6 separate regions of the Homo sapiens genome follow, and regions 2, 3, 4, 5 and 6 are each reported to be linked to region 1. The links are microRNA targets in miRTarBase. Many come from high-throughput screens and were not tested one by one. Region 1 holds a microRNA gene; each other region holds the end of a gene's coding sequence. Distances are from middle to middle.
What was found. Region 1 holds the annotated microRNA hsa-miR-4310 (GCAGCAUUCAUGUCCC, at 1,778-1,793, opposite strand). A microRNA usually pairs through its seed, bases 2 to 8, with sites in the 3' UTR of a target mRNA and lowers its output. Matches are read on the target gene's strand: a 7mer-m8 pairs with bases 2 to 8, a 7mer-A1 pairs with bases 2 to 7 and ends in A, and an 8mer does both.

Region 2: miRTarBase lists ZNF202 as a target of hsa-miR-4310. Seed matches in the 3' UTR shown: 7mer-A1 at 3,988-3,994.
Region 3: miRTarBase lists RAMAC as a target of hsa-miR-4310. Seed matches in the 3' UTR shown: 7mer-m8 at 3,819-3,825.
Region 4: miRTarBase lists KCTD2 as a target of hsa-miR-4310. Seed matches in the 3' UTR shown: 7mer-A1 at 1,489-1,495 and 7mer-m8 at 1,366-1,372.
Region 5: the mRNA of SOWAHC is a reported target of hsa-miR-4310. Seed matches in the 3' UTR shown: 7mer-m8 at 3,466-3,472.
Region 6: the mRNA of PPP1R10 is a reported target of hsa-miR-4310. Seed matches in the 3' UTR shown: 7mer-A1 at 864-870.

Annotation. Positions count from the first base shown.
Region 1 is chr15:41,864,728-41,869,800 of GRCh38, forward strand. It overlaps MIR4310 (microRNA 4310), which reads right to left and starts at 1,824; the gene lies at 1,768-1,824. It overlaps SPTBN5 (spectrin beta, non-erythrocytic 5), which reads right to left. Exons shown (of 68, transcript NM_016642.4): 33 at 3,671-3,874; 34 at 3,342-3,491; 35 at 2,811-2,915; 36 at 2,232-2,399; 37 at 1,617-1,766; 38 at 1,311-1,502; 39 at 1,081-1,176. RefSeq lists a silencer at 5,027-5,073.
Region 2 is chr11:123,721,434-123,726,506 of GRCh38, forward strand. ZNF202 (zinc finger protein 202) reads right to left here. Exons shown (of 9, transcript NM_003455.4): 9 at 2,481-5,073. The coding sequence ends at 4,564. Among named protein-coding and RNA genes, the nearest start is that of ZNF202, 18 kb to the right of the region's middle.
Region 3 is chr15:82,989,584-82,994,656 of GRCh38, reverse strand. RAMAC (RNA guanine-7 methyltransferase activating subunit) reads right to left here. Exons shown (of 4, transcript NM_031452.4): 4 at 3,600-4,776. The coding sequence ends at 4,590. It also overlaps a transcript of C15orf40 not described here. Among named protein-coding and RNA genes, the nearest start is that of RAMAC, 5.9 kb to the right of the region's middle.
Region 4 is chr17:75,062,136-75,067,206 of GRCh38, reverse strand. It overlaps KCTD2 (potassium channel tetramerization domain containing 2), which reads right to left. Exons shown (of 6, transcript NM_015353.3): 5 at 4,962-5,071; 6 at 1,321-4,189. The coding sequence ends at 4,160. Among named protein-coding and RNA genes, the nearest start is that of KCTD2, 17 kb to the right of the region's middle.
Region 5 is chr2:109,615,725-109,620,797 of GRCh38, reverse strand. It overlaps SOWAHC (sosondowah ankyrin repeat domain family member C), which reads right to left. Exons shown (of 1, transcript NM_023016.4): 1 at 1,808-5,073. The coding sequence ends at 4,731. It also overlaps a transcript of RANBP2 not described here. Among named protein-coding and RNA genes, the nearest start is that of SOWAHC, 3.9 kb to the right of the region's middle.
Region 6 is chr6:30,596,884-30,601,952 of GRCh38, reverse strand. PPP1R10 (protein phosphatase 1 regulatory subunit 10) reads left to right here. Exons shown (of 20, transcript NM_002714.4): 19 at 1-17; 20 at 295-1,540. The coding sequence ends at 404. Among named protein-coding and RNA genes, the nearest start is that of MIR877, 15 kb to the right of the region's middle.

The DNA.
Region 1 (5,073 bases):
CTCGTCTGAGCTGAGGCTGGTGCTGCTTGGACACTGGATGGGGTTTAAAGGTACGCAGGGAGGGGGTCCACCGCAGGGTGTGATTGCAGATCTCCTGCCTCTGGCTTCTGTAGAGCTTGTTTAAATTTCCAAAGCACTTTCCTATGAAGTGCCTCATTTGCAAGGTAGGCAGGGAAGGACATTCCCCTCCTTTTATAGATGCCGGAGCAGAGCTCAGAGGCTAACCTGGCTCCTTTGCGGCAGAGCCAGGATTCAAGCCCAGCTCCTTTGGAGTCTAGCTCTCTTCCTACTGCAGCATCTGGCACAGCGTCTGTGAAATTCCACCATTAACAAGGGATGTCTTAGGTTTAAGCACTGCCGCCTCTTAAAAAGTAATACATACATGTACCGGGGGACAAGGTTAGCACATTTGGTCTTTAACACCTGATTGTCAATACATTTGCCATTTTTTTCCCCTGTATACCACATAAGAGAAATAGATGTTTGGTGTGTGTATGTGTGAGGGGGCGGGTGTGGGGTGAGAAGACGCTGAGACGCTGAAATAGTCACACTGAAGGTGGGCGCTGATTATCTGCCACATCCAGGCATATGTCCTATCTTTTTAAGATTTTTTGAAATAATTATAGATGCCCAGGAAATTGCCAAAGTCCTGCAGAGAGGTCCCTGTGCCCTTCCCCAGCTTCCCTTACAGCAGCATCCTATATAATGATAACATTAAAACCACAAAGCTGACGTTGGTGTAATACTACCAACTAGACCAGACCTCATTCAGATTTTATTAGTTTTTGCAAGTATGCATCTGTGCGGGGCAGTGGGGGATAGGTCTATGCAGTTTTATCACAGCTAGAGATTCACGTACCTGCCACCACACACGTGCTCTCTTACCTCTGAGGTGGGTGCTACCCCCATTCTAAAGAGGAAGGAGTGAAGGCGGGTGAGAGGAGGGAGCCTGCCCGAGGGCATAGGAGGAGCAGGCATGGCGCCCACGCCCTGCTCTACAGCCCACACTCTTTCCCTGCTCTCAGTTGGATTTTCAGTGCGGGATGCATGGCCAACCTCTACCCAGCAAGGCCCTCTTACCCCGGCCGAGTTTCCTCGGAACTCGCGGAGCCGCCGTCGGAGCTGCAGGCAGTGCTCCAGGTCCTGGCCCAGGTCACCAACATTCATCTTCACCTCCTGTGAAGGCCGAGGGTGGGGAGGGAGCGCTGTGAGCACCAGCCCAGGCTCCTGGCACCTGCTGCTGGGGATCCCTCCTGTCAAGGGAGGGCTCCTCCCCCCATCTCTCAGCCCCCACCCAGCTGGGGCTACACCTTCTCCTGGATCCAGGCCTCTGCAAGGTCCACTCTCTGCAGGAACTCCAGGAAGTTCCGCCTGTCCTCCAGCTCCTGGCCCCTGAGGGCCATTGCCTGCCTCAGGTCCTCCCAGTGCTTCCGCAGGCCCTGCAGCCGCTGGGAGACCTCTCCGGCTCGAGGGTGACTCTGTGCCAGGAGAGCCTCTCCCTTCTGGAGGGAGAGAGGGGACACAGGACATCTTGCCTGCTGCACTTCCTCCTAAGACTGACATTGCCCCTGGGCCACACTTTGGGGCAGGCATGGGGCTGAGGGCCCGGTTGTTACCTTGGCAACAGAGGTCATGACCTCCTCATGGGCCTGGACTTCAGCCTCAAAGGCCTGGTGTTTCAGCAGGGGCTTCAGCTTATCTCTCAGGTCCCCAGGAGGGACCGGCTCCTTCAGCTGCTGGGCCCACGCCTGGATCCAGTCCTCAGCCTGGTGGGGGTGGGACATGAATGCTGCAATGTTCTGCAGCCTCAGGCCCCAGACGCCACAGGCCTAGCCCCCAGCCATTCCCAGGAGGCTGGCCTCAGGGGTGGGGCGGGCAGCACCTGGTAAATGAGCCCTGAAGGTTCCAGCTCCGGAAGGTTGCTGCAGGAGGCAGCCGGGCAGGGCCTTGGGTGGGCTCTCGTTTTGGAGGTGTGGCCCCTACTCCTGGGGCCCTGGGCTGCTCTGCTCCCTTCCCCACCTCTCTTGCCCTGGCGCTGCTAGAGCTCGGGACACTGGTGAGGTCTCCACACAAAGGGGCTTAGATCCCATGTTCTGGGCTCCAGCACAGCCTCTGGGAAAGCCATCCACCCCCGAACCTGTTTCCGCCTCACAGTGTTGCGGTGTGAAGGCGGCTGAAAACTGTCGAGTGTGGTTCCAGTGGAAGGCCCTGGGCTGGGGGTGCCCTCTGACCTGGGTTGCGGCCTGGGTGAAGCTGGCCATCAGCAGGGAGGCATGCAGGGCGTGTCCCCGGCTCTCCGCCAGCTCCTTCACTCTCATCCGGCGCTGCAGCAGGATGGGAAGCCGGTCCCGCACCCGGGGGCGCCGGAGCGTCTTCAGCCGCTCACGCAGGGCTGCCTCCTGTGGGGCAGGGGCACAGCTGCTGCTCTCCCACCCTGGGCTGGGGCAGGGCCTGGCCTGCAGGGCTCACAGTCCTTTCTTTGAGGGCCCCGGAGCCCTTTCCTCAGCCCCACATGGCTGAGGGGTATCTGATCCTCCCAGCCACAAGCCAGACCAGTCTGCTCCCCAAGGACCACACGGTGTGGACAGAGCCAAATGCCCCGTGTGGGTCTCTGCAGTGTGGCCCATCTCCCCCTGGGCCCTCTTCTTGAGCCACACATACAACTTGCTCAGTCAACCCCAACCAGGACCCCAGCCTTGCAGGCTCATCAGCACTGCCTCCAGGAACACACCAAGCGCCCCGTGACCCCCTTCAGGACTCTCTCCCAACCACCACACTCTGACCACGCCCAGGCCTCCTGACTCCATTACCTTCTTGTCCTGGGCAGTCAGAACCTTCAGGAAGACCTCGTGCTTGCGAATCAACTGCTCTACCTCTTCCACCGAGCTCCCCAAGGCACTGGTTTTCAGGGAGACCTGGATCCACAGAAAAGTCAGAGGCCACCAAGCCTTCCAGCCAGCCAGCCCCTCCAGCTGCAGTCTGTGCCCATGGGCACTCTGGGTATGGCAGGGCCTTAGGAGTGCCCACTGAGCTTGGCATGGAGCTGTGAGGAGTGGGAGTCCAGGTTGGGAGGCTGCGATACCTCAACCTCTGCACCATGTGGGGAGCATGACCAGCCTCTGGCCAACTTCCTCGGGGCTCAGTCTGGGATAGGGGCTGGGGATGTCAGTGGACGCTCAGGGGCCTCAGCACTTCACCATGGCCACCTGGAAGGACTTGTGCACAGCTGCCTCATATTAGAGAAAAAGCCAGAGAGGCAGGAGGAAAGGGACTGAGCAGAGAGGAGAATAGAAAGGAGGAGCAGGAGGCTGAGCGGAGTGTGAGGGCGGGAGGGGACCTGCCTCCTGGGCCGCGAGGATCTCCTCCAGGCGGCCGCACTCTCTGAGGAAGAGCTGCTCCTGCTGCTCGGCCTGCAGCCTCTCTTGCTTCCGTGCCCAGGTCTGATACACCTGGTCCCGCTGGTCCTGCAGGGCTCGAAGCTCTTCCTGGACCTGGGGATGGACACATGAGGAGCCTCAGCTGGGGAGGGTGGTGTGGGTGAGGTGAGGACTGGATCCTGAGGGAAGCTCCTGAGGAGAGGCCAGCATGGCACAGTAGGACGGGGCACCAGGTGGCCAGGCACAGGCTTGGTCAGCTAGGGTATGTGGGGGCACCAGGGGAGGGGGCCCACCTCCTTGGTGGGTGTCCCTGCAGCAAGAAGTGCCTGCTGCCCCAGCTGGGTGGCCTGCTGCCACAGCTTCTCCCGGGCCTCCAGCTCCGCCCGGAGCCACTGGTGGGCACTGAGCTTCAGCGGGCCACTGCTAGGCTCTTGCGAACTCTCCTCCACCTGCAGGTCCTGGCGCACGCGGGCTGCCCAGGAGGCATAGTCACGCACCTGATCCCGGGGACACGGAGGGAGAGCCGGGTGAGGGCTGGGCTGGGCAGCAGGAAACCAGGTGCTGAGGCAACTGCAGCCCACCTGAGTCCACTCACACAGCCCGAGCCGACCTGGGTCAGGGCCTCGGGTGAGGCACATGTGGCCCTTTGTCACTTGGTTTCTCCGTTCTCATCCAACCCGATCCTCCCAGAACCACGAACCCCCTACATGAGCCAGACCCTTACCACGACACATCTCTGCCCTTTGTTCCTCCTGCCTTCCCATCTCTACAGAGCTCACCTGGATGAGGCCATGAGAGGACTGGCGGCTAGCAAGATCAGCCCCATCAAGACTGCTTGATGGGGAAAGAAAGTTCACCTGCTCTTCAAAGGCCCCTTGGCCGCATTTGCCTGGCAAAGCCTTCCCTGGTATTTGACATTGCACTGCTCTCCTTGTTCTCTGAATTACTAATTTAACCCTTACAGTCTTCTGCTGATTTGTGTACAACTATACAAGATTGGTGCTGGAGGGACTTCAGGCCCTTGTCCAAATGTCTCATTGCATGGAGGAAGGAAGGGTAAATGGCAGAAAGAGTCTTGTAAACTCTAAGTGCATGACAAACCCAGGGTTAAGTGCCTTGCTCAAGCTCACACTGCTAGCAAATCAGCAGAGTTAGGTCCCTAAACTCAAGCCTTTTTGCAGTGTCAGTTTGGGCCTCCTGGTCTGCCAGGTCCCAGGACAGTGGGATGCCGGGGACACCCCGTGGCCAGGACCTACTGTCCCAGTCTGATTCTCTGGGTTTCGGGCTCATCTCCCCAGGAAGCAGGGCTCCATGAGGGCAGCAGTTCCACTTTCCATAGCTTCTATATTGCCCTCCTCTCTCCACCCGTGGCTTCAGCAGGGAGCTGAAGACAGACATTAAATAGATACTGACTGATCCAGAGGTCACTGTCTAACATCTGGGTCTCCAGTTATGAGCTTTCCTGGGCAGTTCTTACTCCCAGCCCTGTCTGGGACCCTGCATGACTGCCCTGCCACTCACCTTGCTGGCACTGACCCAGACCCTAAGGTGTCACTGCTATGCCCATGTGCTCAGCCCCTGACCAGCCAGACTGACATCCCGTGTGCTCGTGCTCTCCCACCCAAGTCCATGCTTGTTCTCCCTCCGGAGCTGGAGGGCCTCATGCGTGCATGCCCATGCATGGTGCAGCACACAC
Region 2 (5,073 bases), not on the chromosome of region 1:
ATTAAAACTGTAGTTGTATTTTAGTGGAGGGCCTTTCAGAATATCATGCTAGGGGCACTGAAGGAGGCAAGGATCTTCTCCCTTTATTTGCTGACCCAGTCTTCTGCTTTTTGCTGGTTTCTTGACTCAGGGTTTACTCCTCATTGTTTGGATGGATTATTCAACTGCCCCACAGCTCTTTTGCCGTGGAACTGCTTCTCTGTAGACCTGTTGCCAAGATTCCGCAAATGAACCCAAGCACCAAGCAATTGCTGTAGGCCTCTTCCTGAAATCTTCTCGTTAGTAGTTCCTTGGACTTGTCTAGGAGAGATGTACAACTAAAAAAGAAACCACAAACAGAAGAGCAGAGAAGTCGTCTTACGGGAAACCCTGAGAATCTGCAGTTTTGATTATATTCCTGTGAAATGGCCTTTTTGCAGCGTTGTTATATTCTGCAGAGAACGCTACTAAGATTTATTCTCTACTTAAATGGAGAAGGTTTGGCTATTTTCCTGCATGGCGTTTTAGATGGTTGAATCTTCTTGCTTCTGGAAGTCTTTACAGCTTCTGGAAGTCTTTACATAACCCTACAATGCTCTCAACCTCCTCTGAAGAGTCCCTATCTTTATGAATTGCCAAATAAACTAGTTTGTGCTGACTGATTCCTTTTTTAGAATTTGAATTGCATTCCTCCTTCTACCTGAAACCTCGGTGTACACACGTGCATGCGTGCACTCACACACACTAAAGAGAATAGAAATTGCACATTAAGAGGTATCTTTGTGCTGGTCTGACAATCACTTTGTTCCTTTTTGTTATTAAAGATAAAAAAGGTGGTGTCTAAAGAAAGCTGGGCTCCTCCTTGCTTGATCCTCAGGACTTCCGCAAGGATGAATTAAGTTATTCCACTTATTCCAAGGAGATGTGCTTACATTTGAAACATTGTATCAGTTACTTTGCCACAATAAAGGTTAGTAATCACGTGGGTTGGCCATCCACTTTGTGGCTCTTTCAGTCTTTCCCTCTCCCATAAACTAGATTAGTGGGTTAGTCAGCCAACATCACTAGAAATATAAGGAGATGGAAATAATTGTAGGTATATTTCTCTCAGCTATTGTGGCTGGACTATTTAGGTCAGCTGAGGGAAGACGCTAGAGGTAAAACAAACTATTTTTAAAAATACTGGTGTGGGGCCAGGTGCGGTGGCTCACGCTTGCAATCCCAGCACTTTGGGAGGCCAAGGCAGGCGGATCACAAGGTCAGGAGATCGAGACCATCCTGGCTAACATGGTGAAACCCCGTCTCTACCAAAATTACAGAAAATCAGCCGGGCGTGGTGGTGGGTGCCTGTAGTCCCAGCTTCCTGGGGAGGCTGAGGCAGGAGAATGGCGTGAACCCGGGAGGCGGAGCTTGCAGTGAGCCGAGATCACGCCACTGCACTCCAGCCTGGGCGACAGAGCGAGACTCCATCTCAAAACAAACAAACAAACAAATACTGGTGTGGAAGGGTACCAAATTATTAACCTGCTCAACATGTCATCAGTTACTATTTCTCAGTTCAGCTTTCATTCTAGAAAACTACTATGGAGCCGTTAACTCTCATTTGGATTACTGTCCTTTCAGCCAGTCTGGTGAATCAAAATTTTTTATTTATTAAATATCCCATTTTTCGCCTGTGGCAGGGTGGTGGTCCAGAGGCCTTGACTGAAGGGGACTGGAACAACTTGTCTGTGCCATCTCTGGGCTTTTCTCCTCTACTACTCTACTGCTCAGTGCAAACAATGTATCTTCTATTAGATCCATTACTTCAGTTGTGCTTTGAAGGGGGCAACAGGTTTCTTAGTGGGTTTTGATTTTAGTACCTTGATGTTAATCTGATTTATGAAATTCTCCATGGAGTTCATCTGAGTTTACCGGATTCTGCTCCGGAATATGAGGCCTAAGTCCCAGATAATAAAAATGTATTTTGGCTTGATCTCTTGGGCATTTATTTCTCCTCGGACTTTGTGGTGAAGAGGTTAAATATTCCTTGGTTATTCCTAAATTATCTGGTCAAACATCCTTATATTATCATTTTTAATGTGTCATACCTCTTTAGCACATTTCCAACCACCTGCCACTTCTGTTAATTAAGTAGCGTATTAACTTCCTCCAAATAATATCTTTAAAATCCCACCGTTTTCTCCCTCAGAAACTTAGTATGGTATTCAAGGATGCTAGAATTCTACTGCTCACAAGATACTAGAGGGGACCCCTCCGAATACACACCCTGTGCTCCAACCTCCCTGCTCACGCTCAGCTGCACTACTTCTTTCCTGCCGCTGCACACTGTGGTTGTGTTTGTTCAGATTTGGGAGACAACATGTCCCTCCCAGAACCTCAGAAAATTCAGTAATTTACAAAAGGGACCAGAGATTTAGTGTCAGCATATGAAACTCTGCAGGGAGATCAGTAATTAAGGACTATTTGATGTTCCAACAAACCGGCCCAGCCTCACAAGCTTTCCCTCATGTAGAACTCTGACAGATTTTCATTTATTGGAATAATGCAAATAAGAAAATTAAAAAGTCAATTTGTTGTCACTGCCAGTATTTTACCAACCTTTATAAATGGTTAAGTCTGAGCTAGGAGAAACTATCTTTTGTGGCAGACATTTCACCCAGGACAAGCTGTGCTTAGGCTTAGATACTTGGTTTAGAAATGCCTGCTTATTAGGACAGTATCTTCTGCAAACTCCAGGCTTGGATCTTATCTCAGAGTGCATATGTTTCACCGGACTCTGCTAATCATCCCAACCCTTCCTTTCCTCAAGGAAAAATACTCTGTACTCCCAGATCTATTTGAGTATGAACCACCCTCAGAAGTATCAGGACACTGAAGCCCTGGAAAAGGAATGGGTAAGATGGGAAGTCCCAGAAACCAGGGAACTTGGCTGCAAGTGTTACCTTTATTTATTTCATATATGTATATTTCCAGAAGGACAACGGTTGACTGGTATTAAGACCAAACCAGTCCATCAGAATATCATCGACCAAAATGAGAATTTCCCTGTTGGGCCATTAGGGTTGGAGTCTTATTAACCCTCCCCTATTCCTCGGGCCCATAATGCATTATGAGATAGAGGAGAAGAAACCAGGCACAGAAGACTCTCCCTGTCATGCTTTAACCCCATACCCTGTGCTCCACTTATGGAGGACGTCTCCCCAGTTCTTGCCACTCCCACAATCAGAGAAGGTGAGGTTCATAATTATTCAGCCTCATCTCCAAGGAACCTTTAACTGGCAACAGAGATTGTTGGGCCATCATGAGATGCTACTTTCTAGCTCTATGAACATAAAATCACGTAAGAAAAAGCAAACAACACAAATACATGAAAGCCATTTACTCCTGGTGAATTCCTCAGGGTCCCAGGTTCAACACTTTCCGTGATGTCAGAGTACTCAGTCAGGGATGATGGGGACAGGGTGTCAGAACAGTCTTGATGGTCTTGCCAGCAACAGCTTTTTCTTATTTTCCATAATTTGGTCTTAGTCGTTCTCCAGTTGTCTTCATGTAAATAAAGTGGCCCATGGCAATCATGATTCTGTAATTGTTATAGTGCCTTTGTAAGTTGACAGTTTCCAAATCCCCTTACTCATACGACCCCTGTGAAGGGGGGTGTGAAGGGGTTGGTGGGCTTGTGCATATGAGGGAATGTGAACGATTTCATTATGACCGAATTATGCTTTACTCAATAAGCACTCAAACACTACCATCTCACTTGTAGTAGAAGTGCTAGGGATGCAACCAAGAGACTGGTTGAATAACGGGAAGGTTAAATGCATGAGTATTTTAATAGAAAAAAATATTAAAAACAAAACCAAAACTCGTATGGAAAGAGGCTTCTGACTAGGCCCTCCTTTCTAGCAGTGTTTGGCACCTGATAACAATTTGACGCTGGGGGAGGGAGCAGCTTGACAAGGTCCACATGAAGCAGCCTTGAGATTTTTCGCCCACTTCCATTTCTCCTCAGCATCAAAGGAAAGTGCATGGTAAGAAGTGAATCAGACAGCGAGGGATCTATGCAGTTATCCTGTGAATGTGTGGCAAAGCCATCAGGACGCAAACCTCCTGTCTTGAGTCCAGAGCTGTGTGCTTTAAGATTTGACCCCAGTAAAGACAGAATCCTTCAGGCTCGTCCCTTCCCAAACCTAAGGGGCTGTCCTTGGCCACTTTCAACTTGAAGCTGTTGAGCAGTCTTTAGGATATGTAACAGCCTATTTTTTGGACGATATAGGAACCACGACCTCTTAAGTCTCTTAGTTCTCCTACTTTATACCCATGAGGTAGAGGCAGGTGCACTCCAGTGAAGGAGAAGCCTCAATTCAGGTTGTACTTTGGATGAAACATCCCCTCAAGGCGTAGAGGAAGGCTGAGAGGTTCTGCCCAGGCTCGTGTTTAGTTGCAGGAAGAGGTAATGTCAGATCTGAGCAGGTCAGGGAGACTCCCTCGAAAAGGTCTTCCCAGGCTGACAAGAGGGCTTTTCCTCTTCCTCACCTCCCTTAGGTGAGGGCTGAAAGCAGATCTCCTCACATGGGGACCTAGCTAGGAGGTCTTTTCTGAGTGGGTCCTCTGATGCCTAATTAAGTGATATCCTCTGCTGAAGCTTTTTCCACAGGTAGGGCACGTGAATGGTTTCTCCCCAGTGTGTGTTCTCTGATGCCTGACGAGGTGGTCCCTGCGACTGAAGCTCTTCCCACATTCGTTGCATCGGCAGGGCCTCACTGAGGCGTGTCCTCTCAAGTGCTTGGCGAACGCTGCGCTGTGGGTGAAGCAGCGCCCGCACTCGCTGCAGAGGTAGAGTTCCTCAGCAGCGTGCGTCTTCCGGTGCGCCAGGTACCGCCTGTGTTCACTGAAGTCCTCACCACACTCTCCACACAAGTAGGGTTTGCCTCCCAGGTGGATTCTTTGGTGTGTTGTTAACACAGATTTCTGGCTGAAGCTTTTGCCACAAATAGTACAAAAGAAGGGTTTTTCTCCAGTATGTGTCCTCTGATGTCTGACAAGGTCTGAAGTCCAGCGGAAGTGCTTTCCGCAATCATCACATCTATAGGG
Region 3 (5,073 bases), 41 Mb from region 1:
ATTTGTCTGACATTACAAAGTAAGTACTTTCACAACTAACATTTCCAGCTAACTAAAGTCCAATAATAATAGAGGCCACCTTAAACTGGGAGTATTTATTTCCTATATTGCCTAATTTAAAAAAAATCCTTTTCACTGTAGATTATTGTGCTAATTAGAAGAAGTCAACAGTCTACGGCATAGTTTTCCATACACAGCCAGATCTGTGTTTGGATTGAATGAATCAAATGAAATAGGAAGTCTAGGGAAATTTTTAAGGTATAAAAAATTGTATTTCGGTTTGGCTTGAACTTGTTTAAAATAAATAAAATTTTTAAAAAACATTATATTTAGGAAACAAGTAGAGTTCTTTTATGAGAGTTCAAAATTAGTGCTGTCAATAACCTGATTCAGGGTAAATGATTATTTCCTTCAATTTTAACATTCTAAACTTAAAGCTGACATTTTATTACCCTTAATTCTATTATAAAGTCCTACATTTTTCTTTAGGTGAATAAAATACAAGGGATAATTACCTATTTGTCTGTTGAGCATTATAAGGAAAGTGGCTTTGGAAACAAAAACCATGCTAGAAATCTCCCCAGATGTCTTTTTCCTATGTGGTTTCAAGAACCCCAAAACTATTCTCAGAGCAGTGACTCAAGTTTATTACATTCTGTATAACCCCAAGTCCACCTAGCACTCAAAAACAAAACACAAACAAAAAACTCTAAAAGTCCCCAGCATCCTGTTCTCAAAAGGACATTAATCTGATGTGTTCAGTAATTAACATTTGACATTCTAAATTCACTACTAATTTCCAAATGGCAAATGTTAGTAATTTTATTTTAATTTATGTATTTATTTATTTTTGAGATGGAGTCTTGCCCTGTCACTTAGGCTGGAGTGCAGTGGCACAATCTCGGCTCACTGTAACCTCCACCTCCCAGGTTCAAGCGATTCTCCAGCCTCAGCCTCCCTAGTAGCTGGGACTGCACCACCATGCTTGGCTAATTTTTGTATTTTTCATAGAGACGGGGTTTTTGCCATGTTGGCTAGGCTGGTCTCGAACTCCTGACCTCAGATGGTCCACCTCCTTGGCCACCCAAAGTGCTGAGATTACTAGCATGAGCCACTGAGCCTGGCCAAATGCTACTAATTTTAGCTCAACTTTTATACAAACCATCTTCCACATTTGAAGTGTTTATTTTCTGAATGAGATAACTTGCTTTCCTTTGCTAATTCACATATGAATTAACATAAGGAAACAATCACAAATCCTTAATTCTCAACGTCTTCTGCCCTACCTCATCTTCTGCCCGTTACTCTACATCCTTTATGTCAACACTACGCTTTACAATTTACCAAATACTTCCCTCCCGTTGATTCAACAAATGTTTATGCAGCACCTATTGTGTCCTACTAGGGATTTAATGGTCACAACTCTATATTCTCAAGTTCTTCCTTTGATTATTTATTTTTATAATTCTGTGAGGGTGGCAGGGTGGGTATTGTCCCCATTTTTACAGCTGAGCCAATAAGCTCAGTGTTTACATGATTTTCTCACGGTCACATATGTTTTAAGCACAGAACTGGAAGCTAGGATTCCTTATACCTAATGCCATATGTTATTACAACAGACTACTTGAAATTAATTCTATTTGACACTATTTTATTTGCTCTCACTCTTAAATTATCTTTAAGCTTTTTTTCATGTTATTTTCTGTCTTATGAAGCAGAAACTGTACCTTTTATTTCTTCCTGGTTTTAAGCAGATCAGGGGCAGGGGTACAGTCTGATAGTAACTGCTGTTAAAAAACAAAAACCATAACAACATAGATTATTCATGCAGCATGCAGAATTTACTCATGTTAAAAGGTTTCCTCCCATTTTTTCAAGCACGGCTGATACTCAGGACACAAGCAGCCTAGCTGTGTTGGGTGTTAAAACATTTAAATACTGTTGGAAAACCACCTCTCTTCTGAGCTTCCTGAGAAGTACTCCTCCAGCGCTGGCCTTGGACCCATACATCTCCCTTTGTGTCAACAGCTGGCACAGCACAGAATCCTGACCTAAAGCTACAGTCAGCTATACTGTCCCAACTACTGGTCAGTGCCTGTGCTTTCTCAGGAGATGATTTTATAAATCTTTTTTTTTTTCTTTGAGAGAGTTTCGCTCTTGTTGCCCAGGCTGGAGTGCAATGGCATGGTCTCAGGTCACTGCCACCTCCACCTCCCAGGTTCAAGTGATTCTCTTAACTCAGTCTCCCGAGTAACTGGGATTACAGGCATCCGCCACCATGCCTGGCTAATTTTCGTATTTTTAATAGAGACAGGATTTCACCATATTGGCCAGGCTGGTCTCGAACTCCTCACCTGGGGTGATCTGCCCATCTCAGCCCCCCAAAGTGCTGCGATTACAACTGTGAGCCACCGTGCCCAGCCTATAAATCATTACTTTTAAGAGACAGCATCTATCTAGCCCAAACTGGAGTACAGTGCCATGATCCTAGCTCACTGTAGTCTTGAACTCTTCCCGGACTCAAGGGAGCCTCCTGCCTCAGCCTCCTGAGTAGCTAGGACTACAGGCGTGCACCACCACACCCAGCTAATTTTAAAATTTTCTGTAGAGACAGGATCTTGCTACATTGCCCAGGCTGGCCTCGAACTCCTGGCTTCAAGTGATCTTCCCGCCTCGGCCTCCCAGAGTGCTGGGATAACAGGTGTGAGCCACCATACCCAACCAGGTGATATTTTTGATAACACTTCTGCTTTCAGAGAAGATTCTGGGGTGTAGTCAGGACATTACTATCTAGACTAAATATCTGTAGTATCAAATCCTATCTTTATATAACAGCACTGGCTTCTTGCCTACTGATGTAATTAGGGAGGTTACAGGGAAAACCCTTACTATTAAAATTGTATTTGCATCTTAGTGTGACTGCCCGACTTATTAGGTCATTTCCAATAAAACAGTTACCCGAGAGGATGGCTCTTCAGGAAGGGAGAATAAAAGGGAGAGGTAGATGGAGAGCATGAAGTACCTGGAGAAGTCAACCTCGAGGGCCTAGAGTGGGGTGCTAAGAGAGAAGGCATTAAAAATAGGTTTACGAAGATGCCCCCGTTTTTTTTATGAGATGAAGTCTTGCTCTGTTGCCCAGGCTGGAGTGCAGTGGCACGATCTTGGCTCACTGCAACTTCCGCCTCTGGGCTTCAAACAATTGTCCTGCCTCAGCCTCCCGAGTAGCTGGGATTACAGGCATGTGCCACCACACCCGGCTAATTTTTGTATTTTTAGTAGAGACGGGGTCTCATCATGTTGGTCAGGCTGGTCTCGAACTCCTGACCCCAAGTGATCCGCCCACAGCCTCCCAAAGTGCTGGGACTACAGGCATGAGCCACCATGCCTGGCTGGAAGACGCCTTTTTAAATATATATATTTTTTTGTCACTCTAATAAAGTCAGGAAGGTGCCTGTTAATTCCTTTGACCTATGTTGAAATTTGCACTCTTAATGTTACTGTTAAACCAAATAAGCCCTTTTCAACAGATATGAAGGACAGCATAAAAAAACCCAAAAATCTCATTTCACCATATTAATAAATGGGCTAACTGCCAGAACTTGGGAGTGAAGATGCTTAAATATTTTAAAATTTTTATTTGAATGAAATCATTGTAATAATCATTAAAGTGATTTGAAATAGAATGATCTCTGTGAAAGGAAGTTTATAGCATCACTATTTATAGGAGAGAAAGCAGCAGAGGTATGCATCTGGAAGTGAATATAACATTGTAAAATCAGCCCACATTAAATACCAAAAAAGTAAGAACCATCAAAATGCAGCATTATTTACAGGATTAAAAAGTGTGAACAGTACAGAGTTAAACTTTCTTATGTGTGAATTTTGACCTGCTATGTTGTTAGCAAAAAGCTTTAGTGTTTGTATAAAATGATGTGTACCCTTATCCCAACCACCACCAGATCAAGACACAAACTGACAATGATTCCTTCCTTATTTTACAGCTTTATTACTGATTTCCCTCTAAAAAGAGACTCAAGTGTGGAGCTGACTCATCTATAGATTAAGGAATCACAAAGTACCATAGTCACTTAACAAATGCAAAAAAAAAAAAAAGCAATTGTTTTACCTTTCAACTGCTGATGTTATGTACAATCTATCACAAAAAGCATAGCTGTGCATTCATGAGCTGATTATATCAACCTCTAGAATTTTAGAAACGAGCACATCTAAGCATATGGATACTCTCTTACCTTACAAAGTAAAAGCATTTTCTATTTTAAAATTTTTATTTCTGTGTAAAACAAAGAATTCCTAGAGGTCAAATAATATACCAAACTTAAAGCACTATTAAGTCATGAAACAAAGAAGATTCTGAGGTAGAAGTCAAGCAATATAATCCACAGTTTCAGGTATTCCCAGCAACCATCGCATTTCGCAAGTAAGATCTATTTTTTTTAAAGTCTCAACTTCCAAAAAATCAATAATCCATTCTGTAAAATCAGATGTAAAACTATGACCAACAGAAGACACCCAAACTTTTCTCATGGTAACAGAGTAAATGCTTTTACTAAAAGCTGCCAACATTTCTATCAGTAGTAACCGTAAGGAGGCCGCTGGTTGTAACCATAATGTCCATATTGCTGGGGATAGTAAGGTTCTTGTCTGTGTTGCGGGTAGTTGTTACCCCAGGATCGTCCATGCCACTGATTGGATCGATTGTCACTTGGCCACCCCCATCTGTTGTCCCTGCCTCTGAACTGTCTGTTGTCTTGCAACCTACAACAATAAAACAAAAAAGATCTTTAAACTTCCCTTGTTAAAAAAAACATATGACAAACCCATAGCAGTGCTTCTGGTTTCTCATTCTAATACACAATAAATAAGACTAAAAAACATTTTTCACAATAGAATGTTATAGTGCCAGTTATTCAAAACTTTCCTAAGATTGAAATCATTCTTCCAGTATTATACTAGGTACACTTTACAGAGACATAGGCAGACTATATAACCAATAGAATAGTTCCAAATTAAAGTGAAATCTATTCAATTGTACAAAAATGGTATGGTAATTTA
Region 4 (5,071 bases), not on the chromosome of region 1:
CCGCTCGCCTCGGCGTCCCAAAGTGCTGGGATTACAGGCGTGAGCCACTGCGCCCAGCCCTTTTATTTTTTTGAGGCGGAGTTTTGCTCTTGTTGCCCAGGCTGGAGTGCAATGGCGTGCTCTCGGCTCACCACAACCTCCACCTCTCAGGTTCAAGTGATTCTCCTGCCTCAGCCTCCCGAGTAGCTGGTCCGGCTAATTTTGTATTTTTTAGTAGAGATGGGGTTTCTCCACGTTAGTCAGGCTGGTTTCGAACTCCTGACCTCAGGTGATCCGCCTGCCTTGGCCTCCCAAAGAGCTGAGATTACAGGTGTGAGCCACCGCGCCCGGCCAAATCTCCACTTTAATAATCCCAATGTCTTCCCACTGTTCTCAGGTCCCAGGAGTGAGGACTGCACCCTGCAATCCCTACATTGTGATGCCTCAGTGTCCACTCCTGCCCTTTCCTTTCTCCACTACCAGTTAACAACTGCTGTGGTCTCAATTGGACCCTGACGGATGCACCCACGCATCCTGTTCACTAAGCTGTATGAGTCCATTTTGTCTCCCTACCTGAAAGTGCTGTCTGGAAGGGACTAACACCTTCTGAGTTTCCCATGCCCCGCCTGATGCTGAAGTGATCAATACTTGTTTGTTGGTTGTCACCAAACGTTCCTCACTCATCCTCTTCCTTGTACCTAGTCACTCACTCTCTTCCAGAAAGACTTGTCCCTTAAAAACCATCTCACGGCCGGGGATGGTGGCTCATGCCTGTAACCCCAGCACTTTGGGGGGCTGAGGCGGGAGGATCACCTGAGGTCGGAGTTCGAGACCAGCCTGGCCAACACAGCAAAATACTGTCTCTACTAAAAATACAAAAATTAGCCAGGCGCGCAGGCAGGCGCCTGTAATCCCAGCTACTCAGGAAGCCGAGGGAGAATTGCTTGAACATGGGAGGCAGAGGTTGCAGTGAGCCGAGATTGCACCACTACACTCTAGCCTGGGTGACAGAGCGAGACTCCATCTCGGGGAAAAAAAAAAAAAAAAAAAATCTCACACTCCTCCCCTTGTCTCTTTCCAGCTCTCTGGTGGGCAGCCCATCCGTCCCACCTTCTGTTTCTCTGCATTCTCTGGGTCTTTTCAGATTCAGTAAAATGAAAGGGAGGAGGGAGAAGGCCCAACACCCCCTTTGGTGGTTTCAGTAGCAGGAGAAAAGGACTTAGTCAGCTGTCCTGGTAGGAAAGGTAGTTAAGTCATCTCCTGAAACCCATGTGAGAACCATCGACAGGAAGTGACAGTGGGAACCAGGAGACTGCAGTAATGGAAAACACACCACAGTTCTTGAGATTCAGAAGTTTCATATCTTTATTCACACAAAAAAAGTCACAGCATTTCAGACTATTCAAACACACAAACAGGAACAGAGGGTGCCCACCAGTGACAGCCTCGTCCCTAAGTCTGGATCAAAGGCCACGCTGGAGGGTGGGGTGTCCTCTCGGGCCTCCTCTCTCAGCATCCCGTGGCTCCCTGCTCCCAGCCTCACTGACATCCCCAAGAGCAGTTACAACTGTGCAGAAACAAAGTCACTTTAGAGGAGGCTGGGCCCCACCTCATTGCCATGGAAAAAGGCCAGATTCTGAGGAAAAGACAGAATCAGTGCTACTGTGTCATCAGTTGGGGGATGCTGGGCACTCCTGGGCCTGGCTGGCATCACCTGCGTCCCAGACCTGGGGCAGAGAAAAAGGCAGGACCCTCCCCACTTGGCAGTACTGGGCAGCAGAGAGTGTGGGTCACTGGTCACGTGACAGCCCCAAACTGCCACGCAGACCTCTCTGATGTGATCAGCCAGACACTCAGAGGGCACAACGCTTTCAAGCAAGAACACCAGCCTGGTTCCTAAAGGGGGTGGGTGAACAACGCTCCCAGAAATCTTAAGAACCCAGAGTCCTGGAGCGCTGGAACAATACAGGTGTCATTGGGTTGCAGCGAGGAGGGAAACTTGGTGAACACCAGCCCTCCGAGAGGGCGGAAATACCACTCCTGTCTATTTCCCAGAGCACGTGCCTGTGCCTTGGGGCTCAAGAGCAGTCTTTTCATGGCGGCAACTATGGAATCTAAGAGGAATGAAGGAAACGGCGCCCTCAGGAGGTGCTCAACATTGGTGTCTGACCCCCAGGCCTCCTTGCTGAACCTGGTGAGAAAGCTGGGGTTGGTCTAGGAGCTCCAGCCCACGCTGATCAGGCATGCCCCAGGAAAGCAGACAGGGACAAGCGCCTCAACGAGACTGGGCACAAGGCCGCAAACCAAGCTGCTTTTCCTCTGTCAGTCTGATGTTACTCATTGGACCTGGCCAAGGAGCGCCTCTTCCAAAGTCCTCCATCCTACCCGGCTCAGAGCAGTCCTTCCCGTGATCACTACTTTCCTTGGCTACATCTAACTTTTTTTTTCTCTGAAAGATACGACTGGATGGATGCCTGTGACTCTTGAAGGGGTGGCTGCTTTTACTGAGGACGGCAGTTCATCTAACACTTTACAGCTGTAAAATGTGGCGCATAGGTGTGTAGACGTTGATGTGTCAGCAGAAACCCCTGTATACCGGGTTCTATGCTATGCTACAGATACAGAGAAACAAGGAGACTGAGGGTCCTAGGGAAAAGTTATGCCATCTGGGCATGGTCAGGTCAGAAGCTCAAAAGACATTTGGCACAGTCTGCAGTCATTTCCAGAAACTACTACCCAGACGTACCTTGGCAAGCAGGTGAGCTGTGGAGCACACAGGACATCACTTCTGAAGGTGCCCAGGAGCACCTGGCTCGAGGAGGCTTTCATAGAAGGAGAAGTCCCCAGAGCCCCTTCCCTTTCTCTGTGCCATCTGCCATACTACTGAAAGTTATTCGGGGCAGACAGGGTCCCCTGGCTCTACCGCATTCCATGACTGCTCAGCGAGACCCACATGCTCGGAGAGAAAGTGTGGACACAAACTCTGTGGATGCAGCCCGAAAGAGGGTGCTGCCGCATCCGGATCCTCGCCAGCATGGCACTCCAGAAAAGAAAGTAATGGCGGGGGTCAGGGGGGTGGTCAGAGACACAGGGGGTCCCCAGACTGCCTAGCACATACATACATACCACTGGGGACAGTACAGAGGGGAGCAGGTCCGCCAAGGTTAGAAACCAAGAGACACAAATATTGCACATTCAGTCAAGGCATTTCCAAGAGAGTCACAGAAATAACTCTCTCTGAGACACAACATAACACATTTGGCAACTTTCAAAGAAACAGCCTTCCCCACTCCAAGCCATCAAAGGGTCCATAAGTGCCTTCATCTTTGGTCCAGTTGAAAAAGCCAGGGAAGGAAGACAGGGTCAATGGGGAGTAAGAAGAGGCTGCAGGTGCAGTTCCTACAGCTCCCACTTGTCTGACTCAGTGCAGGATGCCGCCTGTCTCAAACCTCTTCTTGGAGGGAAAACAAGCTCTCCAGAGGGTCCCGGCTGCTGGAGAAAGGTGAGGCAAAGCTGCATGTGGTGGCAGCCGGGAGCCCCAAATCCAGAGCAATGATCACCAACCTCCAACCACAACAAAGGACACCCCATCCTCCCTTTCCTTGGAGGCTCTATTCATGGGAATGCGGGGTACTCTGGCAACTCTATGCTTTACCTAAAACCTCAATTCGACAAACTGCAGCTAGAACCCTTTGCATCTGCTGCACGTCTTGGAGGGTGCATAGGAGGGACGGTGTTCCGAAGCAGCTGCTAACGTCCATTGTGGCACACATAGGGTGAAACCATGGCACGGCACGGGAACAATCCTCTTGGCTCCAGCGTCCTTAAAGTACAGGCCATTTCCAAGGAGCTAGGCCTTCCGCCCTCATCCCCCAGATCCCCGAAAGGCTCCGACTGGGAACCCAGCCCAGCTGCTGTTGTAAAGATCTGTTCTAATACTGGCTAAGCAAATGAAAGCAGGTTTCTGAAAAGGTATTCTGCAGCCAGAAGTCGCACTGTCTTCGGAGTCCTGCAGGTGGGGAGGGAGTTCCTTTAGTTTTGACCAGAACACTTCTTCACAGGGGGCCAGGATCAGCTGTGCTTTGCAGTGGCTCGGTCACTGGACAGGAGTGAGGTTTCACTTCACAGAGGGGCTCTGCTGACTGCTCTCCTGAAGGTCTGGAGTTTTCGGGGTCTTAGTTTACATCCGCGATCCTCTCTCCTGAAGAATCTGAAAGTTGGAGATGGGGGAGAGGCTGAGGCTGCTGAGGGAAAGACAGAGATGTCGGGGGATGCTTTCCACTGGACCCGATGAGTGGCATGATGGTCCTGTCATCCCAGGAAGCAAGCAGGGGTGCAGCCGCAGCCTCACCCGCAGTGCTTCTGGTGCGAAACACTCTCTTGCTGGGCACAGCTGGGTCTAAAGCTTATATGCTGTTGGACCAAAGCTTTGCCAACTGAAAGGAAGTGGTTCCAGCTTACCTGGTATCCACGATTTAGAAGCTGTGTGTGTGTGTGTGTGTGTGTGTGTGTGTGTGTGTGTGTGTGTTGGGGGTGAGGGGGGTGCACAGTGGAGGGAAAAGAAACAGTTTTCCAGGAACTTAAGGGAGGTAAAGGTCACCAAGGTAAGAAAACACCCTTTTCTCCTGAGGCAGTGAAAAAAGCACAGTTTTAAAGAATAAATCAAAATACCTTCCAAGTCTGAGTTCAGAAATCCTACCCTGTAGTAATTAGTGGCAACCAGCTTTTCTTTTTCATTGATTTGGCAGAGGATGGAGAAAGTCTACCCTTTTTAGGTTCATATTTTCTAACTAAAAACACCTGTCAGTGCTCCGTAAATCCCAATTAAATTACAACAGTCAAAAATAACAAAACGAGGGGAAAATGCAACGCTGGCTCTAGAAGGCCAGGGAAGAAGTGAGGAGCAAGAGTTCAGGAAAAGCCCACGGAGGGGGTGCGAACAAGCAAGCCAGAGGCAACTGCCCAGGGAAGGGGCTCCTTACCTTCGCCTTTTCGCTCGGCTCTATGACGATGCCATTGGTAGAATTATTTAGTTCTCTGGAGACAACACAGAGGAATTCTGCCTGATCCTCATTGCCGTAGTTATAGGAAG
Region 5 (5,073 bases), not on the chromosome of region 1:
TACTTAGACTATTTAAGGCCAATTAGAATAATTTCTCCTACAGGTCTTGGACTTGAGTCAGCTTGTAAGGAAACTTTCTTTCTTTCTATTTTTTTTTTGAGACAGAGTCGCTGTGATGCCCAGGCTGGAGTGCAGTGGCACAATCTCAGCTCACTGCAACCTCCGCCTCCCGGGTTCAAGTGATTCTCCTGCCTTAGCCTCCCAAGTAGCTGGGATTACAGGCATGCACCACCATGCTCAGCTAATTTGTGTATTTTTTGTAGAGACTGGGTTTCACCATGTTGGCCAGGCTGGTCTTGAACTCCTGACCTCAGGCGATGCTCCTGCCTCGGCCTCCCAAAGTGCTGGGATTACATGCGTGAGCCACCACGCCCAGCAAAATTTTCTTATAATCAAATTTACTCTTGAAAATCTCTTAAATCGCTCACGAAGTACAGTTCTAATAAAGCTGATTTTATCTTCAGGATTGGAATAACTTGCTGTTCTTTTGGCTGAGCTGCAGATGAACTGATAGGCTGGTATTTAAGAGCCATGTTATATAAAAAAACTATTCACATAGCATGAATGCATGTAATTGAATTATCCATATTATGTAACATTATAAAATATTTAATGTTTTCCATTAAAAGACCCTTACTGAGTACCTTCAACATGCCAGGCACTGTGCAAGGGTAGAACATTTGTCACACATTCCTTACCAATGCATCGATGTGGAAAAATAGGCTATTAGTTAACAGAATAGGAAAGCTACTTACTGAGATGAAACTGACATTTAAAGAGAAGATTGAGAAAAAAAGTATAGTGTTCTTCATGGAAAAAGCAGGTAGTTATGTGAACCACATGACTTCTGTATCTTGAGAAACAAGTTTCTGTAGAGTCATCTTCCAACCCTCTAATATTCAGTGATTTATGAAGACTTGGGTGATCATTGAAGGAATACTGGTTTACAGCAAATTCCAAGTATTTAATCCTGGAATTAATCATGTAAGAAACTCCAAATAATGCTATTTACTTAGCAAAATAAAAATAATTTTTACTAGGAAAATTTCAAAAATATCTTTAAGTGAACTGGTTAATAAATCCTTTTAAGACATGTACTTCTAAGGAAAGAAGTTATTCTAGAAAAACAAACTACTTATCTAGTCTTTCAGTGATCCTGAAAAATATTTTATGGGTTATCATAAAACAAGAATAACCCCAGCAGCCATCACAGTGGGATCTCCCGGATAGAGCAATAGTGGGCGATTACACCAAAGGAGTACCACATCCCTTTGCCATTCAACAGAGTTGAATTTTGCTAAAAATACAGATCACAGGAAGCCTTGATGAGGTAATTAACTCTCAATGCTTCACAGAGGCTGAAAAATGAAAAACGGTATTCCTACACCTGTCTTGAAGTCAGCCCTGGGTAGGGCAGGTTTATGGCAGATGGTGTGTGCAAAACCCATACAGCTTTTTTTTAGGTAGTGGTGGAGGTATTACCTTCTCTCCAAGTTGATTCCTCCATCACTGGTGCCAAACTACAGCAGTTTTGCTAAAAATGTGGCAATTCAATGTGCAGAAAAGATAACGTTGTGGGAAAGCCCTGACTCTTATAATCTTACTAACAGCTTTTTACTGTGTGACCCTGAACAACCATTAACCTCTATTTTCTTATCTGTAAGTCAACAATATATGGCCCATAATCTTAAGGGATAGGAAAAGGGTCAAATAAACTGAAACTTCAAAAAGCATTTTGTGAACTGTAAAACACAGTATATGTAAAAAGTCTAAAGGACGACAGAAACTTAGACAATTCAGAGAAAAATTCTACTGTGAACATTTTATTTTCACAAAACAAACTTTACAGATTTTACAATCTCCCAAATTTCACTTATTTAAAAATAGGAGAGACAAGGCAACCTAGACTCCAAGATTGCAGGCGTGAAAAAACTAGTACCAGATATTCAAGTTATATATGCAAACTGCATTTTATATACCATGAAAGTGAAATGTGACAAACACTCACTAGTTTCAAGTGTACCTTATAAGAAACACATGGACATACTTGGGTTTTTTAACCACATAGTCTCATATCAATAAACATCTAAGTATCTGACATGTATTTTTCCATTAAAGGTAGGCACAACTCTATGAATATCAAATTATATCAATCATTTGCTTTTTATAATCTTGACTGGAAACTGAAAAATAAGAGGAATGTAAAGTTAAGTAGCCGAAAATGCTACTTACTGCACAAAAGCACATCATGAAAAGGAATGCTAGAAGTAGTTCTCCTCAGGAATGGGTTTTTGAAAATTTAAAATATTATTTTATCAGAAAAGTTAAAGCCTTCAGTGGGAAAACCATGGTAAATGACATATTGACTCAATCTCTAAAGCCCTGGCAAATTATAGATTTTGTGCAATTAGTGACCAACATATACATTTAAGAGATAATACTGACTGTTGACCAGAACCTTCTGATGGTTCTGAAGCATCTGCTCTTTAGAGTTACTTCAGCTTTACATGTCTATGAAATTTAAGATTCCTCAATGGGATGTTATAGCTTATTCTGCACTAGATACAAGTAATATGTATAGATTTAGAACAAATGACTACTTTTCACCTTCCAGGAGCCTGTTTTTATTTATACAAAATTAGATTGGTTTTTCACCCACATGTATGCATAAGTGCTTCTCAAATTTACACCGTTCATATCTGAAATCCCACAATAAATGCAAATAAATGGATACTAGTTTATATATTTCATATTTTCATTCATCTTTTTTTTTTTTTTTTTTGAGACAGAGTCTCCGTTGCCCAGGCTGGAGTGCAGTGTCGTGATCTTGGCTCAACTGCAACCTCCACCTCTCAGGTTTAAGTGATTCTCATGCCTCAGCCTCCTAAGTAGCTGGGACTACAGGCACGCACCACCACGCTCGGCTAATTTTTGTATTTTTAGTAGAGACAGGTTTTCACCATGTTGGCCAGGCTGGTTTCAAACTCCTGGCCTCAAGTGATCCACCTGCCTCGGCCTCCCAAAGTGCTGGGATTACAGGCATGAGCCACCATGCCTGGCCTTTCATCCATCTTTAAACAAATTCAATGACCATCTAGAGACAGATGTGACCAAAGTGTTACAAATTTCTATGCATTTTCTATGAATTGCTCTGTGCAGTTCACACATGGGTTCATTCACCCCGCAGGCTGTGAACTTCCTTATCCTGTAGGCTGCAGGTACTTAGGTTTCAGCAACTACGCGACCCAAAAGACTAAAGGAGGACTTGTTTAAATTAGTCCCTCTCAAAAATTGTTTCCAATCTTATAACAAACAGATTTAATATGCTTGTGGGTTAAATTTTAAAGTAGTTATGAAGCCATTTACTCTAATATAAATGAATGAAATGTAATTAAGAACCATACTTAAACGAGTACTTAATTTTAATGAATGGTATTTTTCATTTATATACAAAGGAATAGCCAGCAGCATTTAAATATAGAAATAGTCCCATCTCTTCTCTATTCCCTTTTATAAAGTGCCATTTTAATTGGGTAGATTTACTACCCAGATTTTCAGTAACTACAGGATAGGTATCTAATTGTCAAGAAAAGCTTGGAAAATTAAGTTTAGCATTTTAAACATTTGTAAAACATTGCTACAAGTCATAGAGACTACCAATGTATTAAAATAAAAAGTGTACCTTACATAAGAATCATTAAGTTGGTTTAATAATTACTTCACAGAAACATGGGCTCATGAATACTTAGGCCAATTTGTGCTAATTATTTAAACCAGAAACAGTTTCTGTAGGTAATTCAGCTCTAAGCACCATTAAATAGGGTTATGCCAAATAGAACAATGGTTAAATAATCCTCAGAATAAACACCCCAGCAAATTCAAACTTTTAGAATAGTAACAAAAGTTAGTGAGAATCCGAAAGAGAGGCAACATTTTATTGAAAACTATCATAGGCTGCTAAGTGTTCTCTTTAAATAAAATTTTGTGTAGTTATTAATGTACCTTAACACTGGTGTACCTTAATAGTGGTGTTAGAGATAGGTGGAAACCATACTACAGAAGTGAATGTTGCCTGTTTCTTTTGTTCAGTGATTAAAACTGAAATTGCTTTTAAAAAAATAATTTAACTGCTACTTACAATACACATAAAATACCAAGAAGATTCCCATTTTATTCACATTATTCTCTAATTAGTATTTTTGCATTTCAACTTTGATCTGACCTTCAGTAGTACCTTAAAATGCAAATGCAATTAGTAAAAACGGGGCAGCCTGTCGTTTTCACACTTAGAAATACAATGTAGTTTCATTACAGTTTGCATTTTTTTGTTACTCTTGAAAGAGTAACCCCTTATAAAATCAGATACATAAAAACTGCATTATTCCTTACTTTGCAGGCATCCAGGAATGGTTAAAGCAAAGGAACTCTCATTCATTAATTCATTCATTCTGTTCCCCCAATTTAGATACATTTCTAGTCTCCAGAAACGGACTCCAGGGCAGGGAAGTGGAGGGCAGAGAAGAGGTACAGGTCAAGGTATGATGAATCTCTGAAAAAGACATCCACTTTTCCCAGAAGGCTAGCCTGAAGAGAACTCCGCCCCATCCATTCCGATCCCTCAAGTAAGAATGCATAATTTAGCTTGTCCTTCTGGTCTCACTTCCTTACAACACCTAGTATTCAATTTATTAAGACAAATAAACCTTTGCATTTTCTAAAAGAAGCAATTTTTACCCAAATACATTGGACTTTGGTCTCAATGTGAAGGGCGAGTGGCCTTTAACAGGTCGTTCCTCCCCCACTCCCTCCTCCCCCCTGCCCTCCAGCGGCTGCTCTGGGTCCCTGAAAGAGGGTGTGGTGTGGACGATCTGGGTTCTGAATCGGATTTTGTTGAGTCTGGGTTTTATACGTCCACTAGAGCTGCCCGAGGCTTTGCGCCCTGGATCCTTGGCTTTGCCTCCGACCCACCCCTCAGCCGAGTGGTGATGGTGGTGATGGTCCCCTCCATCTTCTAGGGCGTGTGAGAGTTTGTAGGTGATGAGATGCGAGGGAAGCACCTTTGAAAGCCTCCAG
Region 6 (5,069 bases), not on the chromosome of region 1:
CCACAGCCATGGAGGAGGTGAGGATGCTCCCTGTCCCCCATATGCCTTTTGGTTGTCCCATACAAGCTTTTGGGGAGTGGGTGAGAGTCACTACTGTTGGTAGCTAGGCAGAACGTGAGGTACCCGTCTCTTTGATGTCCTAGTATGCATAGCAGTTCCTACTCTATGCCCTTCCCCCAAATCCCCAAGATTGTCTCTGAAAGACAGTTCTCAGGATGTCATGGACAAGGGGTGGTGAGGGTGGCATTGCCCTCAGCTATTTCCTGTCTAACTGTTTTGCCATCGTTCCCACAGACATGTCAAACCGCCCTGTCTGCCGACATTTCATGATGAAGGGCAACTGCCGCTATGAGAACAACTGTGCCTTCTACCACCCGGGTGTCAATGGGCCCCCCCTGCCCTAGGGACCATTTGCCTGCCCTGTTCACACAACCCCTGTGGACTGCAGCCTCGCTCTTTCCACCCTGTTATGGCTTCTGTGAGGCCCATTTTCCCTTTTCCCCAGCTGATGAGGAGCCGGCCCCCTCAGTTCCCACTTGCTTGGGTTCCTGGGGGTTTTCTGATCACTGGTGCGCATTGATGTACATATTTTCCTCCAGTCTGGGGAGGAGAGAGACTGGAAACGTTCCTGGACTGCTGAAGAGGAGACCCAGTTGGCTTCACTTTTTGAGAAGATTCGCCCTGTACCCCAAACCCCTTTCCAGTATTACCCTTAATGCTTGAGAACCTAAAGCTGGTTATCCTGGCGAACACCCCTACCCTTCTATTGCGGGTCCCCACATGCACACAGAACTCTGACACAGGATCAGCTGCACTTAAGAAATCATCCCAGCTAAGTTCATTATTCCTCATGGGGTGGGGAGATGCTGAAAGGGGTATTGTATATCCCACTGCACTGAGAGGGCTCAATCAGCTGGATTTGAGTTCTGGAACACACATCATCCCCACCCCTCCCCCAGCGTGGGCTCACCATTCTTAGTCCTTTCTCAAGTGGGACCTTCAACTTTCTGTGAACACCCAGTCTGCGTCCTGGGTCTGCTAGGTTCGATGATGGCGAACTCGTATCTGCATCCGGTGCAAGTTTTAGCTGGCAGAGGTGAGACCGGTGGTGCTGGTCTGCCTTTGCCAACTATAGCCAGTCTGGAGACTTGATAAAATACTTCAGTGAGACCAGCTTCTCATCAACTTGGGCCCGGCGTGCTGGGCCTGAAAGTCACACTACATGCACTGCCTTTGGGAGTCAGCTCACTCCCTGCTCCCACCTGGAACCTTGCCAGCGTGAAGGAGGCTTCCAGGTACTTCACCCTGTCAACCACCTCTGAATCCCCACCAGGCGCCTTCCTGGGTGGATTCAACAAGATGATTTTGCCCTTTCCCAGTTCTCTCCTTCACTTTGGCATCAGTTGTTTTCTATGAAAACAGTGGATTGGTTGGGTTTTGTGCAGGGTCTTGGGTTAGAGCCAAAATGGATTTGAGGATGAGTATTTTTTTTTTTGGTTTTGTATATTTTGTACATTAATAATAAACAGTGGAAAGAGAAGCAGCTTATTTAACCCCTAGTGTGTTTGGACTTTTTTGAGACGGAGTCTCGCTCCGTTGCCTGGGCTAGAATGCAGTGGTGCAGTCTTGGCTTACTGCAATCTCTGCCTCCTGGGTTCAAGGGATTCTTCTGCCTCAGTCTTCTGAGTAGCTGGGATTCCAGGCACCTGCCACCATGCCTGGCTAATTTTTTTGTATTTTTAGTAGAGACTTGGTTTCACCATGTTGGCCAGGCTGGTCTGGAACTCCTGACCTCGTGATCTGCCCGCCACGGCCTCCCAAAGCGCTGGGATTACAGGCGTGAGCCACCGCGCCCGGCCTGGACTGTTTTTCATTTTTTTTTTTTTAAAAGCCATTACCACCTGTGTTAGATACATTAGTACAAATCTGTGGAATCTGATTTTTACTCCTCTGGAGCTAATGCTTGATCTAACAGTTGCTATTAAGTACTGGTGAAAAAATGCTTCAAAAAGTACATAAAATACTCTAGGATACAGAGTAGATCTCGGCCACAGGGCTCTTTCCTGGTTTTCATCTTTCTGAGTCTTCTTTAACACGCCTCGTGTGTGTTCCTAGAACAGTCCTATCCTGGCTATCGTGCCCTCTAGGATGTGTTCTTGGTCATCTTATCCACATTCTACAGATAAGGGAGGAAATCCTGAGGATGCTGGAGTCAGATAAAGGCCATTGTCCCAGCTCTACCTCTCTACAGCCTGGGTGACCTTAGCCAGGTTAGTGTTGGGTATCAGTGGCTCATGTCTGTAATCCCAGCACTTTTGGGAGGCCGAGGTGGGAAGACTACTTGAGCCCAGGAGTTTGAGACCAGCCTGAGCAACATAGGGAGACCAGGTCTGTACAAAAAATACAAAAAATATTAGGCATGGTGGCACATGCCTTTAGTTCCAGCTACCTGGGAGGCTGAGGCGAGAGGATCACTTGAGCCTGGGAGTTCAAACTCACAGCTATGATTGTACCACTGCAATCCAGCCGGAGCAACAGAGCAAGACCCTGTCTCAAAAAAAAAAAAAAAAAAAAAAAGCCAGGCATATTGGGTCATGCCTGTAATCCCATCACTTTGGGAAGGCGAGGTGGGTGGATCACCTGAGGTCAGGAGTTGGAGACCAGCCTGGCCAACATGACAAAACCCCGTCTCTACTAAAAATACAAACATTAGCTGGGTGCCTATAACCCAGCTACTCCGGAGGCTGAGGCGGGAGAATCCCTTAAACCCAGGAGGTGCAGGTTGCAGTGGGCCGAGATCATGCCACTGCACTCCAGCCTGAGTGACAGGGCAAAATTCCGTCACAAAAAAACAAAGGGTAAGTATAGACTGCTCTTCCCAAAGTGGCTCTGGCCAGGCATGGTGGCTCAAGCCAGTAATCCGAGCACTTTGGGACGCCAACATGGGAGGATCACTTGAACCCAGGAGTTCAAAACTACCCTAAGCAACATAGGGAAGCTCCATTTCCCCATTTCCGCGCCTGGCCTCCACTCTTCTTAAACCAGAAATTAAAGCTGGGCATGTTGGCTCACGCCTGTAATCCCAGCACTTTGGGAGGCCCACATGGGACGATCACTTGAACCCAGGAGTTCAAAACTACCCTAAGCAACATAGGGAAACTCCATTTCCCCATTTCCGCGCCTGGCCTCCACTCTTAAACCAGAAATTAAAGCTGGGCGTGGTGGCTCACGCCTGTAATCCCAGCACCTTGGGAGGCCGAAGCAGTTGGATCACCTGAGGTCAGAAGTTCGAGACCAGCCTGGCCAACATGAAGAAACCCCATCTCTACTAAAAATACAAAAATTAGCTGGGTGTGGTTACTGGCGCCTGTTATCCCAGCTACTCGGAAGGCAGGAGAATCGCTTGAACCCAGGAGGCAGAGGTTGCAGACTGCACCACTGCACTCCAGCCTGGGCAACAAGAGTGAAACTCCATCTGAAAAAAAAAAGAAAGGATACATCACTCTGGGGGGAGTGTGTGTGGCAGATATGGGGCAGTTGAAGATATTAACATGTTTTAACATGTGGGTTGAGAATGGCGGTTTTCAAGTCTGTTAGCATTCATCAGGATCATCTGAAGAGCTTATTAGAAAACAAATCTGGGGCCGGGTGCAGTGGCTCATACCTGTAAACCCAGCACTTTGGGAGGCCAAGGCGGGTAGATCAGGAGGTCAGGAGTTCGAGACCAGCCTGACCAACATGGAGAACCCCCGTCTCCACTAAAAATACAAAAATTAGCCGGGCGTGGTGGCGCATGCCTGTAATCCCAGCTACTCGGGAGGCCGAGGCAGGAGAATTGCTTGAACCCGGGAGGTGGAGGTCGTGGTGAGCCGAGATCGCACCATTGCACTCCAGTCTGGGTAACAAGAGCGAAACTTGGTCTCAAAAAAAAAAAAAAAAAAAAGAAAGAAAAAAAAAAACAAATTTGGGTTGGATGCAGTGGCTTATGCCTGTAATCCCAGCACTTTGAGAGGCCAAGGCGGATGGATCACCTGAGGTGAGGAGTTTGTGACCAGCCTGGCCAACATGGTGAAATCCCATCTCTACTAAAAATACAAAAATTAGTCAGGCATGGTGGCTCGCGCCTGTAATCCCAGCTACTTGGGAGACTAAAGCAGGAGAATCACTTGAACCCGGGAAGTGGAGGTTGCAGTGAGCAGAGATCACACCACTGCACTTCAGCTTGGGTGACAGAGCCAGACTCCATCTCCATCTCAAAAAACAAAAACAAAACAAAAAGAAAAAACAGACAGATTGGGGGTAGGGTCCAGCAAAATTCTGATTTAGTAGGTCAGGATGGATCCCGAGATATGCATTTCTAACAAATTCCCAGTTGCTGAGGCTGCTACACTGCCCTGGAATACGTGTCTCAGCTGTATTTCCAGCATTGGCCACATGAGGGGGCAACAATGTTTTATCAGTATCTGAAAGGCCTCACTGCATGTAGGCCCAAAGTGGGTAGTTTTACCTTCCCCTTGCCCAGGCTTGGTGTGTGTGGGCGGAGGTGTTCAGGTCAGTCTGTTGTTGCTGTGTGCACTGGGAGAAGACCTGAGAAGACATAATCTAAGGACCAGGCTAGGGCGTGAAATACCAAAGAAGTATACAGCTCAAGTGAAAAAACCCAAACATGTCACAACCTAGTGGTCACAACTTTGTGTCTCTTTCTGCTTCCATTTACTGCCTGCTTCTCACCTTTCTTCTATCTCCTGCAACAAGCCACAAGAACCTTAAAAGAGAGCTTAAAGTTTTTACTGTATTTTAAGAATAAGCTCGGCCGAGCGCGGTGGCTCACACCTGTAATCCCAACACTCTGGGAGGCCGAGGCGGGCAAATCCCAAGGTCAGGAGATGGAGACCATCCTAGCCAACATGGTGAAACCCCGTCTCTATTAAAAATACAAAAATTGCCAGGCGCGGTGGCTCACGCCTGTAATCCCAGCACTTTGGGAGGCCGAAGCGGGCAGATCATGAGGTCAGGAGATGGAGACCATCCTGGCTAACAAGGTGAAACCCCTTCTCTACTAAAAATAC